Linked DNA regions of Homo sapiens. The protein of the gene in region 4 interacts with the protein of the main gene of each other region in a pairwise test. Each region holds a gene or a part of one and is shown on either strand. Other genes may lie near its edges. The genes, in order: SLC17A8, SLC19A3, SPAG4 and CYP4F2.

The links.
Region 1: the proteins of CYP4F2 (region 4) and SLC17A8 interact in binary tests that used the Homo sapiens proteins (3 or more experiments, as listed by UniProt).
Region 2: the proteins of CYP4F2 (region 4) and SLC19A3 interact in binary tests that used the Homo sapiens proteins (3 or more experiments, as listed by UniProt).
Region 3: the proteins of CYP4F2 (region 4) and SPAG4 interact in binary tests that used the Homo sapiens proteins (3 or more experiments, as listed by UniProt).

Annotation. Positions count from the first base shown.
Region 1 is NC_000012.12:100,402,026-100,409,083, forward strand, and holds part of SLC17A8 (vesicular glutamate transporter 3), read left to right. Parts: intron 1-119; exon of another isoform or gene 120-225; intron 226-314; coding exon 315-454; intron 455-570; coding exon 571-720; intron 721-2,012; coding exon 2,013-2,145; intron 2,146-7,058. UniProt on the Homo sapiens protein: Multifunctional transporter that transports L-glutamate as well as multiple ions such as chloride, sodium and phosphate.
Region 2 is NC_000002.12:227,683,263-227,687,028, forward strand, and holds the end of SLC19A3 (thiamine transporter 2), read right to left. Parts: 3' UTR 501-3,766; downstream 1-500. UniProt on the Homo sapiens protein: Mediates high affinity thiamine uptake, probably via a proton anti-port mechanism. Has no folate transport activity. Mediates H(+)-dependent pyridoxine transport.
Region 3 is NC_000020.11:35,611,154-35,618,829, reverse strand, and holds the start of SPAG4 (sperm-associated antigen 4 protein), read right to left. Parts: upstream 3,002-7,676; 5' UTR 2,827-3,001; coding exon 2,523-2,826; intron 2,494-2,522; exon of another isoform or gene 2,443-2,493; coding exon of another isoform or gene 2,418-2,442; intron 1,695-2,417; coding exon 1,590-1,694; intron 1,311-1,589; coding exon 1,244-1,310; intron 1,052-1,243; coding exon 990-1,051; intron 744-989; coding exon 700-743; intron 381-699; coding exon 355-380; intron 219-354; coding exon 110-218; intron 1-109. UniProt on the Homo sapiens protein: Involved in spermatogenesis. Required for sperm head formation but not required to establish and maintain general polarity of the sperm head. Required for anchoring and organization of the manchette.
Region 4 is NC_000019.10:15,877,479-15,881,088, reverse strand, and holds the end of CYP4F2 (cytochrome P450 4F2 precursor), read left to right. Parts: intron 1-1,191; coding exon 1,192-1,325; intron 1,326-1,420; coding exon 1,421-1,485; intron 1,486-1,660; coding exon 1,661-1,743; intron 1,744-2,152; coding exon 2,153-2,318; 3' UTR 2,319-3,066; downstream 3,067-3,610. UniProt on the Homo sapiens protein: A cytochrome P450 monooxygenase involved in the metabolism of various endogenous substrates, including fatty acids, eicosanoids and vitamins.

The DNA.
Region 1 (7,058 bases), on a different chromosome or scaffold from region 4:
AAGTTGACCTAAAAAAATAAGTAGAACATTGTCTTTCTTTAAATACCAGTTAACAAGAGGAACGTCAACAAAATACTTACCCCTAGCTGAACATACTGCCATTTGGAAATATTGTAAAGATCCTTTTGTAGTTCATAAATGTGATAATTGGGTGTTCACGTGCATGTATGAGATGTCTGAGTCCCTCAAACCTTGTTACAACATTGGTACATTACCCATTTTACCTGAAAAAAATATATATGGTAAAAATTGAAAAATTTAGAAACGGAAGAAAATGAGACCATATAACCCAGCCTTTTCTTTTTTAACTGCAGGCATGTTTGGGATTATTTGGTACATGTTTTGGCTGTTGCAGGCCTATGAGTGCCCAGCAGCTCATCCAACAATATCCAATGAGGAGAAGACCTATATAGAGACAAGCATAGGAGAGGGGGCCAACGTGGTTAGTCTAAGTGTAAGTATAAAAAGTCAGATGAAGACTTACCTTTTTTCATAAGTGATTGTGTTGCCTTCTTACAGAAAAAATGTCAATATCTTTACTAAAAATATCATGGTATTTTTACTCCCTAGAAATTTAGTACCCCATGGAAAAGATTTTTCACATCTTTGCCGGTTTATGCAATCATTGTGGCAAATTTTTGCAGAAGCTGGACCTTTTATTTGCTCCTCATAAGTCAGCCTGCTTATTTTGAAGAGGTCTTTGGATTTGCAATAAGTAAGGTAAACACACAGATGCTCCAAATATTTTTGAACTTTAAATCTCTTGATTCTACAGAGAATAACTTTGTATGATAAAATAATTAAATTGCTGATCATAATTCATAACAGTTCTGTGACACCTAATAGCCTGGCTGTCAGACAAGTTATACATTCTATGCATAGTATGCATAGCTGTTTAATTTCTTCTTAGCAAGGATCAGAGCCGTATTAAGCTGCTTTAAAGATTTATGTTGTACCCAATCTTAGAGTGTTTTTGAAGCTAGCTCAAGGACGGCATATTAGGCAAGGATAAAAAGATTTGAGGGTGTGGGTTTTCTTTTTTTCCTGTAAGCTACTCAGTGAGTAGCAGTAAGAACCTTACCATTCATTTTGCAGAACACCCCTTCTCCATAATGGTGGCTATAGCAGTAACAATCATTGCTTGCAATGGGTTAGAAAGAACCTCTTTCTGCCAGGCGTGGTGGCTCACGCCTATAATCCCAGCATTTTGGGAAGCCAAGGCTGGCGGATCACCTGAGGTTAGGACCAGCCTGACCAACATGGCAAAACCCTGCCTCTACTAAAAATACAAAAATTAGCTGGGCGTAGTGATGCACACCTGTGATCCTAGTTACTCAGGAGGCTGAGACAGGAGAATCACTTGAACCCAGGAGGCAGAGGTTGCAGTGAGGCGAGATTGCACCACTGCACTCCAGCCTGGGCAACAGAGCAAGACTCTGTCTAAAAAAAAAAAAGAAGAAGAAAAAATAAACAGAAAAAAAAGAAAGAACCTCTTTCAATGCTCCCAGACATTATCATCAAGCCAATTGTGTTTTAGGGAGGAAGGGTGTGGATAGTGAATCATCAACCATCATCATAAGATAAACCTCTTTCCTACAAGGGAAAGAACAGCAGCCGAGCAAACACAAATGTCTGCCTAGCTACAGATACTGTCAGAAGTGACCATGGAAGAGCTGGCATAATCATGAAATGGTGGCTGTCATCAGTCATCAGTGCTCACTGGGTGCCAAGTGCTTTATCTCCCATGTGCCATGCCCTCTGTGATGAATAAAAGTCATCGCTGCCCTCAAGGAGCTTCCAATCTGGTAGAGGACACAGATAGGTCTAAAATCATTCGCTCATTCATCATTTATTTATTATGAAATTCAGGCCTACCCAGCTCCCACATAATTAGATGCTTAAATTTGGTGGTGGTAGGTAGGGGGGCTGTGGAGTGGAGGTGGGCAAGGGAATTAGGGAGGCCCCTCTCTCAGAAATAATGACAAACTGCTTACTGTTTCTTTCCCTTCCAGGTGGGTCTCTTGTCAGCAGTCCCACACATGGTTATGACAATCGTTGTACCTATTGGAGGACAATTGGCTGATTATTTAAGAAGCAGACAAATTTTAACCACAACTGCTGTCAGAAAAATCATGAACTGTGGAGGTACTGTGGATTTCATAGATGGCTTAGGCAGCTTTTGTAGAATTAGGGTAAACTGAACTGCAGAGCATATATTAAGAAGTGACATTTAGTCATTGGAGTGGATCTTAAAGACCTCTAAGTCTGTCCCTCAGCAGACACTTGAGTGTTGTCCATCACAGTGCTGCCAAGAGGTCATCCAGCTGGGACCTTTCCATACATCCTTCCACATTTATTGTTTGCTTATGTAGTTTATTCCCTTCTCTGCTTACCTTTCTACCTATCCATATGTTTTGGTAAGAAACAGAAGAAAAGTAGTCTTTCCTCCTAGCCTATGCTTGTGCATGGGATATATGCACACACACACACACACACACACACACACACCATTCTCTTTCTTGATTTTATTTAGCTCCTGCTTTATGTTTTAATTTTGTAAAGACAAAGTGAATGTTAGGTGATTTCCCAAAAGAGGTAGGCGAAAGTAATTGTGAACCCCTACAATGTTCATGAGTGCTTTTTAAAAAACTCATCTTTTTTGTTTAGCTTTTAAAATTAACATTTATTGAATGCTTTCTGTGCCAGACACTAAGCTAAATCTTCTACATACATTATTTTATTTAATCTTCATAACCACCATGTGGAGCAGGTACTATTACTATATGCAATTTGCAATGAGGAAACAGAGGTAAAATAAAGGGACTTGCTCAAGTAGCAGATCCCTGCAAGGTATCAGGTAGGCCGGAGCCTACCGCCAAAGCTCTTAGTTTGCGGCTACCCCTCTGGAGGACTAGTCAGGATGAGCGAGCAGGAGGTAGAGGATAGCGCCACCTATGGGCAAGAGCTCACAACTGTGATATTAAGTTGAAAGGGACGGATTGCGTATGCTCTGACAGATAGCTAGGTCTGGCACATTTAGAAGTGAAGACTATACCGAGGGACACAGGAGCAGGCATGATCTGATCCCATAGCATTTCGGGAAGAAAGCCTAAGAGTCTGTTGGCACCTGTTCTCCCAGTTCCTTGACTGCTGGTCCCAGGCAGGGATGTGTGGGCCTGACCTTAGCTTGAACTTTCTTGTAGAGGACTGAGGGTTAGCGGATATAGGCCTGCTATCTGGTGGGCAGGAGGTGAAGCTCTGGGACATTGCATTCAAGTCCTCTCCAAGAGAGCTGTAGCAGCTAGAATAATGCCCATGTCCTAATCCTCAGAAGCTGTGAATATGTTTCCTTACATGTCAAAAGGGACTTTGCAGGTGGGATTAAATTGAGGTTCTTGAGATGGGAGTTTATCCTGCATTATCTAGGTGGGCCCAATATAATCACAATAATCCTTATAAAAGGAGGAAGGAGGGTCAGAGTCAGAAAAGAAGATGTGATGGTGGAGGCAAGAGTCAGAGTGATGCAGCCACAAACCAAGGAATGCAAGCAGACCCTAGAAGCTGGAGAAGACAAGAAGAGATTCCGCCATAGCACCTCTAGAAGGAATGCAACTCTGTAGGCTGCTGCCTTGACTTTAGCCCTGTACCATTTTGGATTTTTGGCCTCCAGAACTGTACAATAGTGCAGAGAGTATTTTAGAGGTGACATCTAATCATTGGAATAGATCTTAAAGACCCCTAAGTCTATCCCTCAGCAGATACTTGATATTTGTGTTGTTTTGAGCCACTGAGTTTGTGGTAATTTATTACAGCAGCAAATGAAAACTAACACAGCGGTAGGCAGGGTGCAGTGGCTCACTCCTGCAATCCTAGCACTTTGGGAGGTTGAGGCGGGCAGACCACTTGAGCTCAGGAGTTCGAAATCAGTCAGGGCAATAGTGAGAACTTTTCTCTATTAAAAAATAAAACATTTATAAAATGAAAACTAATACAGTAGCCAAAGCCTCACCCTTCTAATGATAAAATTCTGCTCCAGCTGAACAGCCCTCACCCAAGCCCTGAACATATCTTTCTGTCTCTGACTTTGCCCACTCCCTTTCTCTTTCCCTGTGAGTTCTCACCTTCACCTCTCAATCCAGTCCTCTCTATACATCCAGCTCAATTCTTCTCCTCTTATGTTTCCTTAAAGCCATGCCATTCTCCAGTGATCCCTCTGAATATGTCCACATGGCTAGATTGGCAACTCATCATGTGGTGCCTTATTGCAGCTCTCTCAGGAAAAGATTTTAGGCAGAGGGAATAGTATGTGCAATGACCCTGGGGCAGGCAGGAATGTGGCCTGTGTGAGAATAGAAGGAAGGGGAGTCAGAATGGCTGAGTGACGGGAGACGGGATCGGGATGTTTTTCTAGGGTCAGATCATGGCAGGCCTTGTCGGCGTATGCAGAGCTTGGGTTTTATTTGAAGTACATTGAGATGCAGATGATTTAAAGCACGGAATGGATATGATCTCATTTTTTTTTTTTTTTGAGACAGAGTCTCGCTCTGTTACCCAGGCTGGAGTGCAGTGGTGCAATCTCAGCTCACTGCAACCTCCGCCTCTTGGGTTCAAGTGATTCTCCTGCCTCAGCTTCCTGAGTAGCTGGGATTACAGGCATGGGCCACCATGCCTGGCTAATCTTTTGTATTTTTGTAGAGACAGGGTTTCACTATATTGGCCAGGCTGGTCTCAAACTCCTGACCTCAAGTAATCCGCCCGCCTCGGCCTTCCAAAGTGCTGGGATTACAGGCATGAGCCACCTCGCCTGGCCTTGCTTATTTATTTTTAATCTGGGGAATTATGCAGGGTACAAGAGTAAAAGAAGGGAGACCAGGTAGGAGGTGATTTCAGTTGTCCTGTCTAGAGAAGATGGTGGCTTAGACAAATGAGGTGGCAATGGAGATGGAGAGAGGGGGGTCAATTTCTAAATTCTCAGAGCCAACAGTTCTCATCTTTAAATTACATAATAATATTTACTTCAGAGGATAGTTATGAGAGTTAAATGATACAACGTATGAATGCACCTAGTGCGGTGTTCAACCTATAAAAAGTTCTCAACAAATGTTAATGCTGCTTTTTTTCTCCTATGTTCAAGACACAAAAAACACAGAAGTTTTTCAAAGAGTTCTTTAACAAATATCTGTGATTGTATTTCCTTTGGACAAAAAAATGTACTTCTAAACTGGCAACTTTAAATAAGTTTCTGGATTTTAAACACTACTTGCACAACCTCTTCTAAACCCAGATGCATTGGATATTCTTGAGCATATTTTGTGGGAATGTCTTGTTCCTATTTAATTCTGCCCCAGTACCTCTGCTGTTTCTCCATAATTGGTGGTGATTATGTTATGTTGTGGTGATGAGAACTTTCAAAGATGTTTAATTGCTAACAAAGTGCCTGTTGAGAGGAAATAGTTTTTTTTCTGCAGAAACTAGAAGGCATATGTGGAATCTTTCTGCCTCATCTCCCATCTTTAAAAAATACCTCTTCACATGGCTTTTCATGTTCATATATATATATATTTTTTTTGTTTGTTTGTTTTGTTTTGTTTTGTTTTTGAGATGGAGTCTCGCTCTGTCACCCAGGCTGGAGTGCAGTGGCGTGATCTCAGCTCACTGCAAGTTCCGCCTCCCAGGTTCACACCATTCTCCTGCCTCAGCCTCCCGAGTAGCTGGGACTACAGGCACCCGCCACCACACCCGGCTAATTTTTTGTATTTTTTAGTAGAGGCGGGGTTTCACCGTGTTAGCCAGGGTAGTCTCGATCTCCTGACCTTGTGATCCACCCACCTCGGCCTCCCAAAGTGCTGGGATTACAGGCATGAGCCACCGTGCCCGGCCATTCTTTTATATTTTGACATAGTAGGACCAGTGAGTTATATATAGAAAATAAAATTTTTAAAAAGACCATAATGGTCCCACTTTTTCTGCTTAAATACAGAGATGCTAGAGCAGAGATAACTACATGAAAACAAAGTTTTGTGCCATCAGTGAAGAATGCAGGTTGATTTGGAAATGATGAAGCACTGGTATGATCTTCCAGAGAATTTTGGTTGGCTTTTTGGTTTCCTACTAAGAAATATAGAAGGCATTTCTCATCTGAGAAGGATCACACATATCTTGGAGCCTGTCATCTTTTATTTCCATAGATTTTAATATGCCATTAAAATCATTTAAAGCAAAACAGATCACTTAAGACATGATGTTCAATTCATTCTGAATCAGGGTCTACGTCTATGATGCTTAAAGACAGATGCCAAATTCTTGTCCTGCCCCCTCTATAGAACATGCAAAGTGTAACTGAGGTCAAAAATTCTATTCTGGCTGAATCAGTTGCAAGTGTGAACTTCAGATTATTTTAATATGAAATAAAATATTTCTTAGGCCTTTAAGTCCTAGTTTTGTTTTTCTTGTCAACTCTAAATAGGTTCAATTTTAAGGATCTCCTGATTACCCCTAAAGTTGAAATTTTATCCTTAAGCTCCTGAAACATGCAGCCCTGTCTCTAGTATTTTAACTGTCAGTAGAAACCATTTAGGCTCTTAAATGCTTTTTTTTCCACTGGCAATCTGCTATTTGGCCAAAATTTTTTTTCTTACAGATGAACTGATGTATCATTTGTAAGTTTTATTCTTTATACAATGTCATCATTCTAATTCTTTGGGGGAATTGACTTTCTGCATGCTTCTGTTCAGAGTGTAAAAATAAAAGAAGTTTCAGCCAGATGCCTTGTTATTTAGGATAGGCACTTCTAAGACACATATAGTTAGTATATGAAACACTAGCTATTTTTCCCTATGTGTAGTCTTAAATGTTGAAACAAAATTAAGAACAAGTAGCAATGATATAAAGCCTATAGTTTTAAAAGTAAGACTTCCCTAATTACATTTCATCCTCTTTAGAAGCCATTTAAAACAATTATTAGTTCTTGCCCTTCTTTATAGTAGTGTTGAAGAAATAGGTTCAAAAAGGTAAATATTAATAACTTAACCATCATTTACGGTAAGTACTTCAGCTTG
Region 2 (3,766 bases), on a different chromosome or scaffold from region 4:
GGGTCATTATTTAAAAAATTTTTTTCATTACTGAGATACCAAATAAAAAATTTTAATTTAATTTTTCAATGTCAGGTCTACTTATTATTATTAATTTTTTTGAGATGGAGTCTCACTATGTTGCCCAGGGTGGTCTTAAACTCCTGGGCTCAAGCGATCCTCCCTCCTCAGCCTCCCAAAGTGGTGGGATTCCAGGAACAAGCCAAGGTGCCCAACCAGGCCCACTTATTTTTTTCTTCTGTTGTTTGTTCCTTTTAATTATAAATGCACATTTAGTAATCCATTCACATTGCCAAAAATATAAAACTATCATAATGGTTGCATGGCAAATCTCCAGCTCCTTATTCTTCAATGCGAATTTATTTCCCAAGAGGTTAAATGCTTTTTTGTAAAAGTCGTATTTTAATTTACTGGTGGGTTATTCATTTGGTGCAAGCATCAAACACCATGAGAATGTGATGTCTCCCTCCCATTTCCCATTACTCCACAGTAGGCAATCATTGGTATGAGTTTCAGTTGTTTATTTATTTGTTTGATTGTTGGTTTGTTTGTTCAAGACAGGGTCTCACTCTGTCATCAGGGCTGGAGTGCAGTGGCATGATCTCAGCTCACTGCAACCTCCACCTCCTGGGCTCAAGCGATCCTCCCTTCTCATCCCCTCAAGTAGCTGGGAGTCCAGGTGCAAGCCACCATGCCCAGCTAATTTTTGTATTTTTTGTAGAGACAGGGTTTTGCCATGTTGCCTAGGCTGGTTTTGAACTCCTGAACTCAAGCAATCCACCTACCTCAGCCTCCCAAAGTGCCAGGATTACAGGCATGAGCCACCGTGCCAGGCCTCATTTGTCTTTTTAGAAAAGTTATACGCATATATAAGCCAATACAGATATTTTTGTCCTTTTTATACAAATGCTGAGTTGCTGCGTTCATTATTATTTTGGTGCTTGACTTTTTTCCACTTGATAGTAGAGCTCTTAGAGTTCTGTGTCACTAAAGATCTTCCTCATTTTTTAGCAGTTAATTTTGTTATAGGTGAATATGTGAAGGAATCATAATGCATTTTTTAATCCACTTTGGGTCTCACTCTGTCGCTCAGGCTGGAGTGCAGTGGCACAATCTCAACTCACTGCAACCTCTGCCTCCTGGGTTTAAGTGACTCTTATGCTTCAGCCACCGAGTGGCTGGGATTACAGGCATGGACCACACCCGGCTAATTTTGTTGTTTTTAGTACATACAGGGTTTCATCATGTTGCCCAGGCTTGCCTCCAATTCCTGGCCTCATGTGATCTGACCGCCTCAGCCTCCCAAAGTGTTGGGATTACAGGCGTGAGCCACTGCACCTGGCCTCCTTTCCAATTTCTGACCTCTGATTTTTCTTGTTTGTCTAATTGTGATGCCTAATGCCTCCAGAATAATAAGTTAAAAAAGAAGGATAATAGACTGGGTGTGAGGTGGCTGAAGCCTGTAATCCCAACACTTTGGGAGACCGAGACGGGCGGATCACCTGAGACCAGGAGTTTGAAACCAGCCTGACCAACATGGTGAAACCCCGTCTCTACTAAATATACAAAAATCAGCCGGGCATGGTGGTGCACGCCTGTAATCCCAGCTACTCGGGAGGCTGAGGCAGGAGAATTGCTTGAACCCGGGAGGCGGAGGTTGCAGTGAGCTGACATTGCGTCATTGCACTCCAGCCTGGGTGACAGAGCAAGATTCTATCAAAAAAAAAAAAAAAAAAAAAAAAAGAAGAAGAAGAAAAAGAATAGCGGCCATTCCTTCCTTGCCTTTAATGTAAGTAGGAATGTTATTAGTTTTCTCCACTAAGTGAGTGCATTGATTCTTGGGCTGGATCTTAGTCCAGTGAAGAATTTCGGGATTTGGAGAGGAGTATACTTGAGAAACATATTAGTCCATTATCACATTGCTATAAAGAAACACCTGAGACTAGATAGTTTGTAAGAAAAGGGGTTTAATTAGCTCACAGGCTATATAGGAAGCGTGGCAACATCTGCTTCTAGGGAGTCCTCGGGGAATTTTTACTCATGGCAGAAGGCAAAGTGGGAGCAGGCATCTTCACGTGGCCAAAGCAGGAGAAAGAGAGAGTGGGGAGGTGCTACACACTTTTAAACTACCAGATCTCACGATAACTCACTGTCATGAGACCAGCACTGAGGGGACGGTGCCAAACCATTCATGAAGGCTTCACACCCATGATCCAGTCGCCTCCCAGCCGGCCCCACCTCTAACATTGGGGATTACACTTCAACGTGAGATTTGGTGGGGACACAGATCCAAACCATATCAAAATCCAATTAAAAATTTTTTTGTTTGTTTTAGACACAGGGTCTTGCTATATTGGCCAAGATGGTCTCATACCCCTACCCTCAAATTAACCTCTCACTTCAGCCTCCCAAAATGCTGGGATTACAGGTGTGAGCCACAGCTTCCAGCCTTAATATAAATCTTGACTCAGCATTCTTTATTCTCACTGTCAGACTGCTCAATGCATCCCTTATTGAAGTTTCTTGAAGTTTCGAAAAACAGGTATGTTCAGATAATTTTCAGCAGAATTCATCAAAAAATGTTAACAACTCTTTAAAATTTTTACACATTTTATTTAGCACAATTGCTACCATTTAAAAATCAGGTGTTTTGGCCAGGCATGGTGGCTCACGCCTGTAATCTCAGCTCTTTGGGAGGCCGAGGCAGACAGATCACCTGAAGTCAGGAGTTTGAGACCAGCCTGGCCAACATTGTGAAACCCCATCTCCACTAAAAATACAAAAATTAGCCAGGCGTGGTGGTGTGCACCCATAGTCCCAGCTACTTGGGAGGCTGAGGTAGGAGAATGGCTTGAACTCAGGAGGTGAAGTTTGCAGTGAGCCAAGATCACGCCATTGCATTCCAGCCTGGGTGAGAGAGCGAGACTGTCTCAAAAACCAAAACAAAACAAAATCAGGTGTTTTATTCCACTCCCCCCATCAGTGTTTTCTTATTTCTAATACTTCTAGAAACCTCCTTTAAGTTTTCCTATTTTAGACAGACACCACACAGGTGCTCTTTTTTGGGAGGAGGGGGATGAGAGTCTTACTCTGTTGCCCAGGCTGGAGTGCAATGGTGCAATCATAGCTCACTGTAGCCTCTGACTCCTGTGCTCAACCCATCCTCCCACCATGGCCTCCCAAGTAGCTGAGACTACAGGCACACACCACGCTGCCCAGCTAATTTTTTAATTTTTTAGTAGAGTCAGGTGTCACTGTGTTGCCCAGGCTGGTCTTGAACCTCTGGCCTCAAGCAAAACTCCCACCTTGGCCTCCCAAATTGCTCGGATTACAGGAGTGAGCCACTGCACCTGGCCCATAGATGCATTAACACCTGTCTATGGTGGTGGAGAGAAGGCTCACTGCCTCTCCCAGGCCACTGGGAAATGACCTTGTGTATTCTGCAAATACACAAGAGGATCTGAAGCTATTCTTGAGGGAGACTTTCAACAGCAAAACTCAGAGCACAAAATGGAAAATAATCATAAAAAAATTAAATAATAATACTATCAAATCATAACGTGAATAATGCTGTTATTAGAGTTGAAGAGAAGCCCTTAGAAATGGGACAAACATTGTAATTCTCTTAGAGAACTGTAACTTAAACAGAAATACACTTAATAGAAGAGGAAAGAAAATGGTTCATGTGACACAAAGGTCCCATGTGTTGACTTCTTTGGTAAGATCAAATAAGTATTTAAGCCTAGCAATAGGGTCAGTCCAGTTA
Region 3 (7,676 bases), on a different chromosome or scaffold from region 4:
GACTTCGTGGGCACCGGGAGAAATCCCGCAGGGCTCTGGGCGGAGCTTAAGTCTCAGGACCCTGGGAGCAGGGATCCATCAGGGGTTTCCAAGGTGGGCCGGGGCTCACCTCGCTGTTGGCTGCCCGAACAGTGGACACCTCCTTGTGGAGTTTATCCAGCTCGGCCTGGAGCTGCTGCAGCTGCTGCCCCTGGGAGCGCACGCGCTCGTGGTACTCACTGGAGGTGGGAGGTGGGCGCCGTGGGGTTGGCTCCCTGTCCCCCTGGACACCTCCCAAAGGCCCCCACGCCTTCAAGGTTCTCAAAGAAGCAACTTTGAGCCCCCCAATTTCCCACCCTAGGTGCCCTCTTTCACCTTAGAGTCAGCATCTCCTTAGGTTCCTGTTGGATGAAGGGACAAAACACAGAGCCGCTCAGCTCCCGTCGTCCTTGCTCCTACCTCAGCCTGGAAACGGCCAGGGCTTCCTTTTTGAAGACTGTGTCCCCTTTCCTCGACTCCTCCTTGACCTCCCAGTATCAGAGCCCCCAAGAGACCCTCAAGCACAATCCCTCATAAGTCTGTTTATATCCAGCCCTTTCTTAAGGATTGTAGCCTCTGGCACTACCCCCACCCCAGCAGACCGACAGTCCAGGGGACCCCCACAATCTCCGGGTTCACAACCTGCCAACCCCCTACCCCAAGACAGTCTCCCCAACTCACATTCTCCAAAGGAGAGACCAGGTACAGAAGCCCCAGCCAGAATGCTGGAGAAAGAGAGGGAGGGGTCTCAGAAGGAAAAGGAAGAGAATGGGTTTCCCCGGCATAGGGGGACAGTGGAAAGAGGCTTGAGGGGGTTAAGCCTGGGGAGGACCGTGGGAGTCTGAGGGGGAATTAGGGGGTTCTGCAGGGGAATGCCAGGAGCTGCAGGACCGAGGATGTAGGAGAAAATGTGCTGGGTTTGCCTCCAAAGCACCCAGGGCAGGGGCTCCAGGGAATTCACTGCCCCTCACCTGACAGAAAGAGGCTCAGCAGCGACACAGCCGTGAACAGGAAGCGGATGGAACAGACCTCCCTGGGGAACCGGAGGGAGGCTGAGGCCCCGACCTGCTCAACCCTCCAGTCCCCACCCCAGGGTCCTAGACCCAGCTCTTGCCAACATGACTCAATCAGATCTGAATCGGCTCAAGCGCCAGCAAGGTTCCGGCCCTGCTCCCCACCCCCTCCAAAGAGCTGTTCCTGGGGCGCCAGCGTCCCTTCCTCTGACCTGTACATGCTGACCAGCACGTCTCCTGCCAGGGATAACAACACGCTCAGCCCCTGGAAGAGCAGGCCTGAGGCCAGGACAGAGGGTCAGAGAGGGGCCCACGGCAGGGAGAGGCGGGGCTCAGCCTGCGTGGTGTCCGGGTTCAGAAGGGGCTTGGGAGGGGCCGGGGGTGGGCCTGGGGCTCAGGAAGAGAGGGTCGGCTAGGATAATTGGATGGGGGCTAGGAATGAGTTGAGGCTCGGAGAGGGGCTCGATACTCAAACGGGGGCCGGGGGCTCAGAGAGAACTGGAGTTCGGAGAGGGGAACCCGAGGGTCAGAGGGGATCGCAGCTGGCCTGGCCCGTACTCAGAAAGCTCTTGAACACCCGCGGGGGAGGCATCTCCTGCCTCAGATCCAGGGTCGGGAGAAGGTCGAGCGGCTCCTCAGAGACTACTGGAGACCCAGTCGGTTCTGCGGGAACCCAAGGGCTCCACTGGGGCCTTGCGGACCACAGACCTATTTTCCCCTCGAGACCGGGCCGCAGATTGCTCAGTCCACAAGCCAGACAGCTGGGAAGTCTCTCACAGGCTTTGGTCCCACCGCAGCCCTATCCCGGCTCCAGCTCCGCCCTCTGAAGCCCCGCCCCTCAGGGAGGCTCCGTCAAGAGTTGGTCTCCTGGCCGGGCGCGGTGGCTCACGCCTGTAATCCCAGCGATTTGGGAGGCCGAGGCGGGCGGATCACCTGAGGTCGGGAGTTCGAGGCCAGCCTGATTAACACGGAGAAACCCCGTCTCTACTAAAAACACAAAAATTGGCCGGGCATGGTGGCGCACGCCTGTAATCCCAGCTACTCGGGAGGCTGAGGCGGGAGAATCGTTTGAACCCGGGAGGCGGAGGTTGCGGTGAGCCGAGATCATGCCATTGCATGGCATGGGCAACAGGAGCGAAACTCCGTTGCAAAAAAAAAAAAAAAAGAGTTGGTCCCTCCCCCAAACGGATGACCCGCCCCCAGCCTTAGATCTTGGTGGAACCCAATTGTCCTGGGAGCCACTCACGCTAACATTGAGGCCGCGCCCCCTCAGTGGCACCCAACCACAAGATTTTCCCCGCCCCTTCCCATAACCGTCCAGGACACCGAGGCTCCGCCCCTTAAGGGATCTCATTTAGCACCATCCCTTTACCCTACAGGACCCACCTTGTAGGAGGTGCCCAGATATCATCTTAGCCCCGTCCCCGCCCAGCACCGCCCTTTAGGCCCCGCCCCCTCCACTGGCTCACCCGGGGTCGACCCCGCCCGCACCCGAGGCCCCGCCCCTCACGGTTGCCGCGCCACAGGCTGTCTGCCAGTTGTGGCTCCGAGGCGCTGGCTTCTGCTGAGAGCTTCCTGCCCATGTGGTTCCTCCGGGCACTCCCGCGCTCAAGGCGGGCTCACCGCAGCTCGGGCCCCGGGCTCTTCTGCCCTCGGGCTCCCCAGGCCCGGGCTCCGCTGACCGGAGCCCTTTGCTGTCCTCCGAGGTGATGCTCATTGAGCTGTTCTCGCTGAAAAAGTTGGGCGTGTGCTTGCGCGAGGACGAGGCCGAGCCCGGGCGGGAGCTTCGCCGCATCCTGACCCCCTGCTGCCTAGTCACTGACGCTAAAGCCGCCGCTGCGGTCGCCAAGGCCCTGGGGCCTCCTTCAGCCGCTGCGCGCCGCGGGGACCCCACGGACCCTGCGTGAAGTCGGCAGGCCCCGCGGCCGCACCTGCCCTCCCGCTGTGTCCCGGCCGGCTGCTGACGTCACAGAGGAGCCTCGGTCTCCGCGGGCTGCCCTGGCCGCGCGTCACGGAGCTGGCCGTGACGTCACCTGGAGCCGTAGCCATGGCAGCCTCTCCTTCTGACTTTGTTGTTGTTTAAGAGACAGGGTCTTTCTCATTGCCCAGGCTGGAGTGCAGTGGCCTGATCATAGCTCATTGTAACTTCGAACTCCTAGGCTCAAGCGATCCTCCCGCCTCGGCCTCCCAAAGCGCTGGGAGTACAGGCGTCAGCCACCGCGCCCGGCCTCTTTTACAGCAAGCGATGATGTCACAGCACTTCCCAGAAAACCCCATCTAAAATGGCACTCAGTCTATAACAGTTTTTTTCTTTCTTTCTTTCTTTCTTTCTTTCTTTCTTTCTTTCTTTCTTTCTTTCTTTCTTTCTTTCTTTTTTTTTTTTTTTTGAGATGGAGTCTCATTCTGTTGCCCAGGCTGGAGTGCAATGGCGCGATCTTGGTCCACTGCAACCTCCGCCTCCCGGGTTCAAGCGATTCTCCCGCCTCAGCCTCCTGAGTGGCTGGGATTACAGACATGCACCACCATGCCTGGCTAATTTTGTATTTTTAGTAGAGACGGGGTTTCTCCATGTTAGTCAGGCTGGTCTTGAACTCCCGATCTCAGGTGATCCACCCGCCCCGGCCTCCTAAAGTGCTGGGATTACAGGCATGAGCCACTGCGCCCAGCATTTTTATTTTTATTTTATTTTTATTTTTTGAGACAGAGTCCTGCTGTGTCGCCCAGGCTGGAGGGCAGTAGTGCAATCTCGGCTCAGTGCAACCTCCGCCTCCCGGGTTCAAGCGATTCTCCTGCCTCAGCCTCCCGAGTAGTTGGGATTACAGACACCCGCCATCATGCCTGGCTAATTTTTGTATTTTTGTAGAGACGGGGTTTTACCATGTTGGCCAGGCTGGTCGTGAACTCCTGACCTCAGGTTATCCGCCTGCCTGGGGCTCCCAAAGTGCTGGGATTACAGGAGTCAGCTACTGCGCCTGGCCTCTTTTAAAGCAAGTGATGACGTCACAGCACTTCCTAGAAAACCCCATCTAAAATTGCACTTAGCAAATACCAGTTTCTATCCCCCTTCCCTGTTTTGTTTTTCTCCTCAGCACGTGTCACTAACATGCTATATATTTCATTTCTCTCTTTCTTTGAGATGGAGTCTCGCTCTGTTGCCCAGGCTGGAGTGCAGTGGCATGATCTCAGCTCACTGCAACCTCCATCTCCCGGCCTCAAGCAATCCTCCCGCCTCAGCCTCCCGAGTAGCTGGGACTACAGGCTTGCGCCACCACACCCAGCTAATTTTTGTATTTTTTGTAGAGATGGGGTCTCGCTATGTTGCCCAGGCTGGTCTTCAACTCCTGAGCTTGAGTGATCCACCCACTTCTGCCTCCCAAAGTGCTGGGATTACAGATGTGAGCCACCATGCCTGGCCCATTTATTTATTTCCTTATTGCCTGCCATGCCCACTAGAACATAAACTTAATCAGGGCACAGATTTTCATTCACTACTGTATCCTCCAGCACCTAGATAAGCCTAGCATGTAGTAGGTGCTCAAATATTTGCAAATAATGAATGTTAAGAAGGAGCAGGGCATCACTCAGGGCACTTCTAAATACTTAGTCCCCTTTGCTCTGCAAGCCCTTCAGCCCCCTCCTCTCATCCTAGACATCAGGTCAGAGAGCTCATTCAGGATCTGTGGGTCCCTCCTCCAGACCCATTTTTCCCAGGGGTCTGTGGGTTGAGAATTCAGCACCCACCAATCGTCATACCCACACTCAGGCTGCACACCTGAGCCATGGAGGAAAGAATGAGGAATCAGATGGTCACAGCCAGAAGACTAGAGGTCCCCAAACTCTTGCTATGTAACAGAATATCAGTGCAGCTTATAGAAATTCAGCTTCCCAGGCACACCTTGTGATTCTACTGCAGATACTGCAGAATTTCTGAGTTGGCCCAGGAATGTGCTTTTGTTTTGTTTTTGTTTATTTTTTAGGCAGAGTCTTGCTCTGTGGCCAGGCTGGAATACAATGGTACGATCTCGGCTCACTGCAACCTCTGCCTCCTGGGTTCAAGCAATTATCCCGCCTCAGCCTCCAAAATAGCTGGGATTACAGGCATGTGCCACCACACCTGGCTAACTTTTTTTTTTTTTGTATTTTTAGTAGAGACGGGATTGCACTATGTTGGCTAGGGTGGTCTCGAACTCGGGACCTCAGGTGATTCGCCCACCTCGGCCTCCCAAAGTGCTGGGATTACAGGTATGAGCCACTGTGCCCGGCTGGAGTGTGCATTTTTAACAACCACATTTGTGATCCTGGTTAAAGACCACATTTTGGGGCCAGGCTTGGTGGCTCACGCCTGCAATCCCAGCACTTTGAGAGGTTGAGGTGGGCGAATCACCTGATGTGAGGAGTTTGAGACCAGCCTGGCCAACATGGTGAAACCCCATCTCTACTAAAAATACAAAAATTAGCCGGGCGTGGTGGCCCGTGCCTGTAGTCCCAGCTACTTGGGAGGCTGAGGCGGGAGAATCACTTGATCCCAGAAGGCAGAGGTTGCGGTGAGCCAAGATTGTGCCACTGCACTCCAGCCTGAGCCACAGAGTGAGACTCTGTCTCAAAAAAAAAAAAAAGAAAAAAGAAAAACAACAACCACATTTTGAAAGACAATGCAGTATGTCATGCACAAGTTGCACAGCTAGGCAAACAGGTCCAGGTAGAGGAATAACACTGCATCACATTAGAATTCCCAAATCCTGCCCTCGAGTGCAGTCCTCTTAACTGCCATCTCACAACTTCCTTAGAATGTGAGGAGCTGGGGCCGGGCATGACGGCTCACGCCTGTACTCCCAGCACTGTGTGAGACCCAGGCAGTGGATCACTTGAGGTCAAGAGTTCAAGACCAACCTGGCCAATATGGTGAAACTCCATGTCTACTAAAAATACAAAAATTAGCTGGGTGTGGTGGCGTGTGCCTGTAGTTCCAACTACTTGGGAGGCTGAGGCAGAAGAATCGCTTGAACCTGGGAGGCGGAGGTCATAGTGAGCTGGGATCGCACCACTGCACTCCAGCCTGGGTGACAGAGCAAGACTTCGTCTCAAAACAAAACAAGAATGTTAGGAACTGGAAGTGGCAGTTTTTGAGGGGTTGAGGCACACGGACAATCTGTTAAGCTATGTTCTAGCCCAGAGGGGAGATGCCCATGCCAGGCTCCAGAGGGATGATCTCAATACCTTGCTTCATTAGGTGCCACAGGGCCCACACGGAAGAAGGGAGAGGAAGGCGAAATCACTGCAAACTACAAATTCTGGTCCATACCACCCCATCTCTGCCTCTGCCACGTTTTCTGTCCGTTAACTCCTTTGGGTCCTTTTAATAGAGGTGAGCCGGGCACAGTGGCTCACGCCTGTAATCCTAGCACTTTGGGAGGCTGAGGCGGGCTCACAAGATCAGGAGTTCATAGACCAGCCTGACCAACATGGTGAAACCCCGTCTCTGTACTAAAAATACAAAAATTAGCCAGGCGTGGTGGTGCACACCTGTCATCCCAACTACTGGGGAGGGTGAGTTAGGGAATTGGTTGAACCTAGGAAGCGGAAGTTGCAGTGAGCTGAGATCGCACCACTGTACTCCAGCCTGGGCAACAGAGTAAGACAGTCTTTTTTTTTTTTTTTTGAGACAGAGTCTTGCTCTGTCACCCAGGCTGGAGTGCAGTGGCACGATGTTGGCTCACTGCAAGCTCCGCCTCCCAGGTTCACACCATTCTCCTGCCTCAGCCTCCCGAGTAGCTAGGACTACAGGTGCCCACCACCAAGCCCAGCTAATTTTTTGTATTTTCAGTAGAGATGGGGTTTCACCATGTTAGCCAGGATGGTCTCGATCTCCTGACCTCTTGACCCGCCTTCCTCAGCCTCCCAAAGTGCTGGGATTACAGGCATGAGCCACTGTGCCTGGCTGACACTGTCTTAAAAAAAAAAAAAAGACTGTGGGGAGGTGAAGCCTTCCTCCAGCATCTGAGGGTTTCAGGTCTAATCTGGGCCTTTTTAAAAAACAGAACAGCCTGTCCCTCTTGTCTGATGTGGTTTAGACCCTCAAACTCATTTGAATACATAACAACTGGCCAGGTGCAGTGGCTCACTTCTGTAATCCCAGCACTTTGGGAGGCCTAGAAGGGCTGATCAGCTGAGGTCAGGAGTTCAAGACCAGCCTGGCCAACATGGTGAAACCCCATCTCTACTAAAAATAAAAACATTAGCCAGGTATGGTGGTGCACATCTATTAATCCCAGCTACTCAGGAGGCTGAGGCAGGATAATCGCTTGAACCCGGGAGGTGGAGGTTGCAGTGAGCCAAGATCACACCACTGCACTCCAACCTGGGTGACAGAGTGAGACTCCATCTCAAAACAACAACAATGGAGAAATAGGCAGAACAGGGCTTTCCAACCCAGTACTGAGATGGAAAAGCTGAAGCACAAGAAGGGACCATGACTGGCTCAAGGTCACACAGCAAGACCCAGCTCCTCTGACTGTCTAATCTTATCTGCTGCTGCTGCTGCCGCCGCCCAGTACATTCCTTGTGTTCAGGCCAAACTGTACACATTACATGGCCCAGAACACGTTCAGCATTTCTTCCCACTGCCTGGGTTTCTGTCTTTGCTCC
Region 4 (3,610 bases):
AAACATCTTCCCATCAATGTGTATGTGGCTTGTTTCCAACCTTTTGCTAAAAGTGGACATGAGGCAGTCAGCATGTGTGCACAGTGACCATTCCTTGCATGTATAAGCATCTCTGCAGGACAAATTCCCTGAAGTGCAATTGCTGAATCAAAGAACATTTGCACTGTACAATTTTAATTATCATTGCAAATCCTTTCCTATTAGCTGAGTTTGATGGCACAAGTTTTCCCATAACTTTACCAATACTACTAATGTATTATTAAATTTTAAAATCTATGCCAATCTTCATATTTCTTCTTTTGATGGACATTGTTTTAAATAAGAGTGAGGTTGAACATCTCTTTCACGTGTTGATGTTTGTTTCTTTTTATGGAAGTGGTTCCTTTATTTTTTTGCTCTTTTTCTTTGGATTCTTTAAAAATATTTACTTTTAAGAATGTGTATTAAAATTGATTTTTTTTTTTTGAGATGCAGTCTCTATCGCCCAGGTTGGAGTGCAGTGGTGTGATCTCAGCTCACTGCAACCTCCACCTCCCAGGTTCAAGCCATTCTCTTGCCTCAGCCTCCCGAGTAGCTGGGACTACAGGTGCCCTCCACCATACCCCGCTAAGTTTTTGTATTTTTAGTAGAGACGGGGTTTCACTGTGTTAGCTAGGATGGTCTCGATCTCCTCATGTTGTGATCCACCTGCCTTAGCCTCCCAAAGTGCTGGGATTACAGGCATGAGCCACCACGCCCAGCCAAAATTGATTTTTTTTTTTCTGTCTTGGGTTGCAAAATATTGCCTTTCAACTTTTGGAGGGTACTTTTCATTACTATCCTTTATCTGCAAAAACTACCATCTTGAGCATATTCAACTTCTGTGAAGTTAAATTGATCCACTTTTTTCTTTTACAACTGTAAAATCCATCAGTTTCCCAGGATTTTGGTTTGAGCAGGGGCTGTCTTTATCAAATGTGAAGTTTTCACTTATTCTCATGTCTTTTTCTGAGCTCTCCCTCATGTTCCATGGGTCTGTTTTCTCATTTTTGCCACAGTGCCACACTATTTTTATTCTTGCGACTTTGTAACAATTCTTGTTAAAAGTTTATTTTATTGCGGGGAGAAAAGGTCTCACTTGCAAACAGAGAGAAGCTGGAGAATTGTGTCTTTGCTCCCTTGATAAGGATTGGGGCTGGGGTGTTTCCTTAGGGACGACCTGGCCCATTTGCCCTTCCTGACCATGTGCATGAAGGAGAGCCTGCGGCTGCATCCCCCAGTCCCGGTCATCTCCCGCCATGTCACCCAGGACATTGTGCTCCCAGACGGCCGGGTCATCCCCAAAGGTGCTCACAGCCTCACGGGGAGGAGTCTCCTGGGTAGGAAGAGGGGCCCCTCAGTGAAGGAGGCCTTCTCCTGACTGCTCCCTTCTCTCCCACAGGCATTATCTGCCTCATCAGTGTTTTCGGAACCCATCACAACCCAGCTGTGTGGCCGGACCCTGAGGTGCGGGGCCCCTCTCTCTGTTTTTGTCCATTCCAAGGCTCCTAGAGGAGGGGGCAGGGTTTTGATCAGGAGTATCCAACATCACCTCCCTCAAAGACACACACAACTGTCTGTCTCTCCAAGGCTGGCGGACTGGGAGACCCCACCCAACAACCCTTCTTGGTCTCACCTCCAGGTCTACGACCCCTTTCGCTTTGACCCAGAGAACATCAAGGAGAGGTCACCTCTGGCTTTTATTCCCTTCTCGGCAGGGCCCAGGTAAGGGCGGCCTGTGTCTGAGGTGGGAACGGGTTGATGGGTGCAGGGGTCTGGGCATGACAGTGGGGAAAAGGGGGACATTGTAGATGGTCCAAGTTCCAGCTCTCTTTCCCTCACCTCCTCTGGAGTTTATAGGAAAAGGTCCATAGAGTACGGTTGGGTTGGTCCTAGAAGGGTCTGTGGTGTGCTCAGAGCCCCCTCCTACCCCACCTTGGTCTAGGCTGGGGGTTGGAGCTCGGCTAGGCTTGCAGGATATGCAAGCCCGCATGGGGATCCAGGCACGGATACCCCCTTCTCTATTCCTCAAACTGCTCTAGGTGGGGTTGGGTGTCCCAGGCCAGGTTACCGGCTTGATGGGGCCAGGATGGGGCTCCTGGGTGCAGTCAGAGTTCCCACCTCCCTCCCCTAGGAACTGCATCGGGCAGACGTTCGCGATGGCGGAGATGAAGGTGGTCCTGGCGCTCACGCTGCTGCGCTTCCGCGTCCTGCCTGACCACACCGAGCCCCGCAGGAAGCCGGAGCTGGTCCTGCGCGCAGAGGGCGGACTTTGGCTGCGGGTGGAGCCCCTGAGCTGAGTTCTGCAGAGACCCACTCTGACCCCACTAAAATGACCCCTGATTCATCAAAAGTGAAGCCTAGAATTACCCTAAGACCCTGTTCCACAGTCCTGTATTCCATCCTAGATATCTACTCAAAATAATTGAGACAAGTGTTCAAACAGAAAGACGCTTGTGCGTGAATGTTCATGGCGGCCCTATTCACAGTAGCCAAACGATGAAAACAACCCCAAGCTATATATTACCAGATGAAAGGATAAACAAAATGTGGTCCATCCATACAATGGAGTATTACACAGCCATAAAAAGGAATGAAGCAGTGATCCCTACTACACTGTGGATGAACCTTGAATGCATGATACTGAATGAAAGACGTCAGATGCAAAAGGTCACATAGTGTACTGTCCTTTTATACGAAATTTCCAGAACAGGCCAATCTGAAGAGATGCATAGCGGATTGGTGGCTTTCAGCAGCTGTGGGGAGGTGGGACTGAGGAGCGACTGCTAATCAGTATGGGGTTTCCTCCCGGGATGGTGAAAATGTTCCGGACCTAGATAGTGACGAAGGTAGCACGACACTGTGAGTGCACTAAATGCTATTGAATTGGACACTTTGAAATGGTGAATTTCGTGGTATGTGAATTCTACCTCAATCAAAAAAATTTGCTATTTTATCTCACATACATTTTTTTTCTGTCCAGGTTGTTCATATAATAATATGCTGTGAGCATCTTTCCATGACATTAAATCATCTTAGGAAACATTATTTTGTGGTCCTCAAAATGTGTGTGTTAAGTGTTCAAATCAGTCTTAATTTAAAAAAAGACATCATATTAGAAAATAAAAGTGTTTTGTCTCACTTTGTAAGAATTAGCTTCATATACATTGACTATTAGTAACAAATTGAGTTATTCTTCATCAAGTAACTTTTGGGGTAGAGATCTCATTTTCACAGCAATAGATGCACAAATATTCATGTAAGATACAGGTGTGGTTAGACACCTTTCATAGAACAGTTATGATCTGGAAATTCCACAGACACTGAATATTTTGGTCGTATTAACAGAAGTAGATCACTGAGAAGGGAGAAGGTGACTTTTCAGCTCCCCCAGGTAAATGCTGATTTCATCCTCACATCGATCTTACAGATTGTAGATGAACTCACTTGTTCAAGGTCACTCAGTGAAGGGTGGAGTCAGGGGTGAATCTGAGCAGTTGGCATCAGAGGTCATGCCTTATCGTATCAAGGACATGATTTTCAAAGCGAGTCTCAGCCCTAGGCACATCAGATTACCTGGGAACCCCTACAG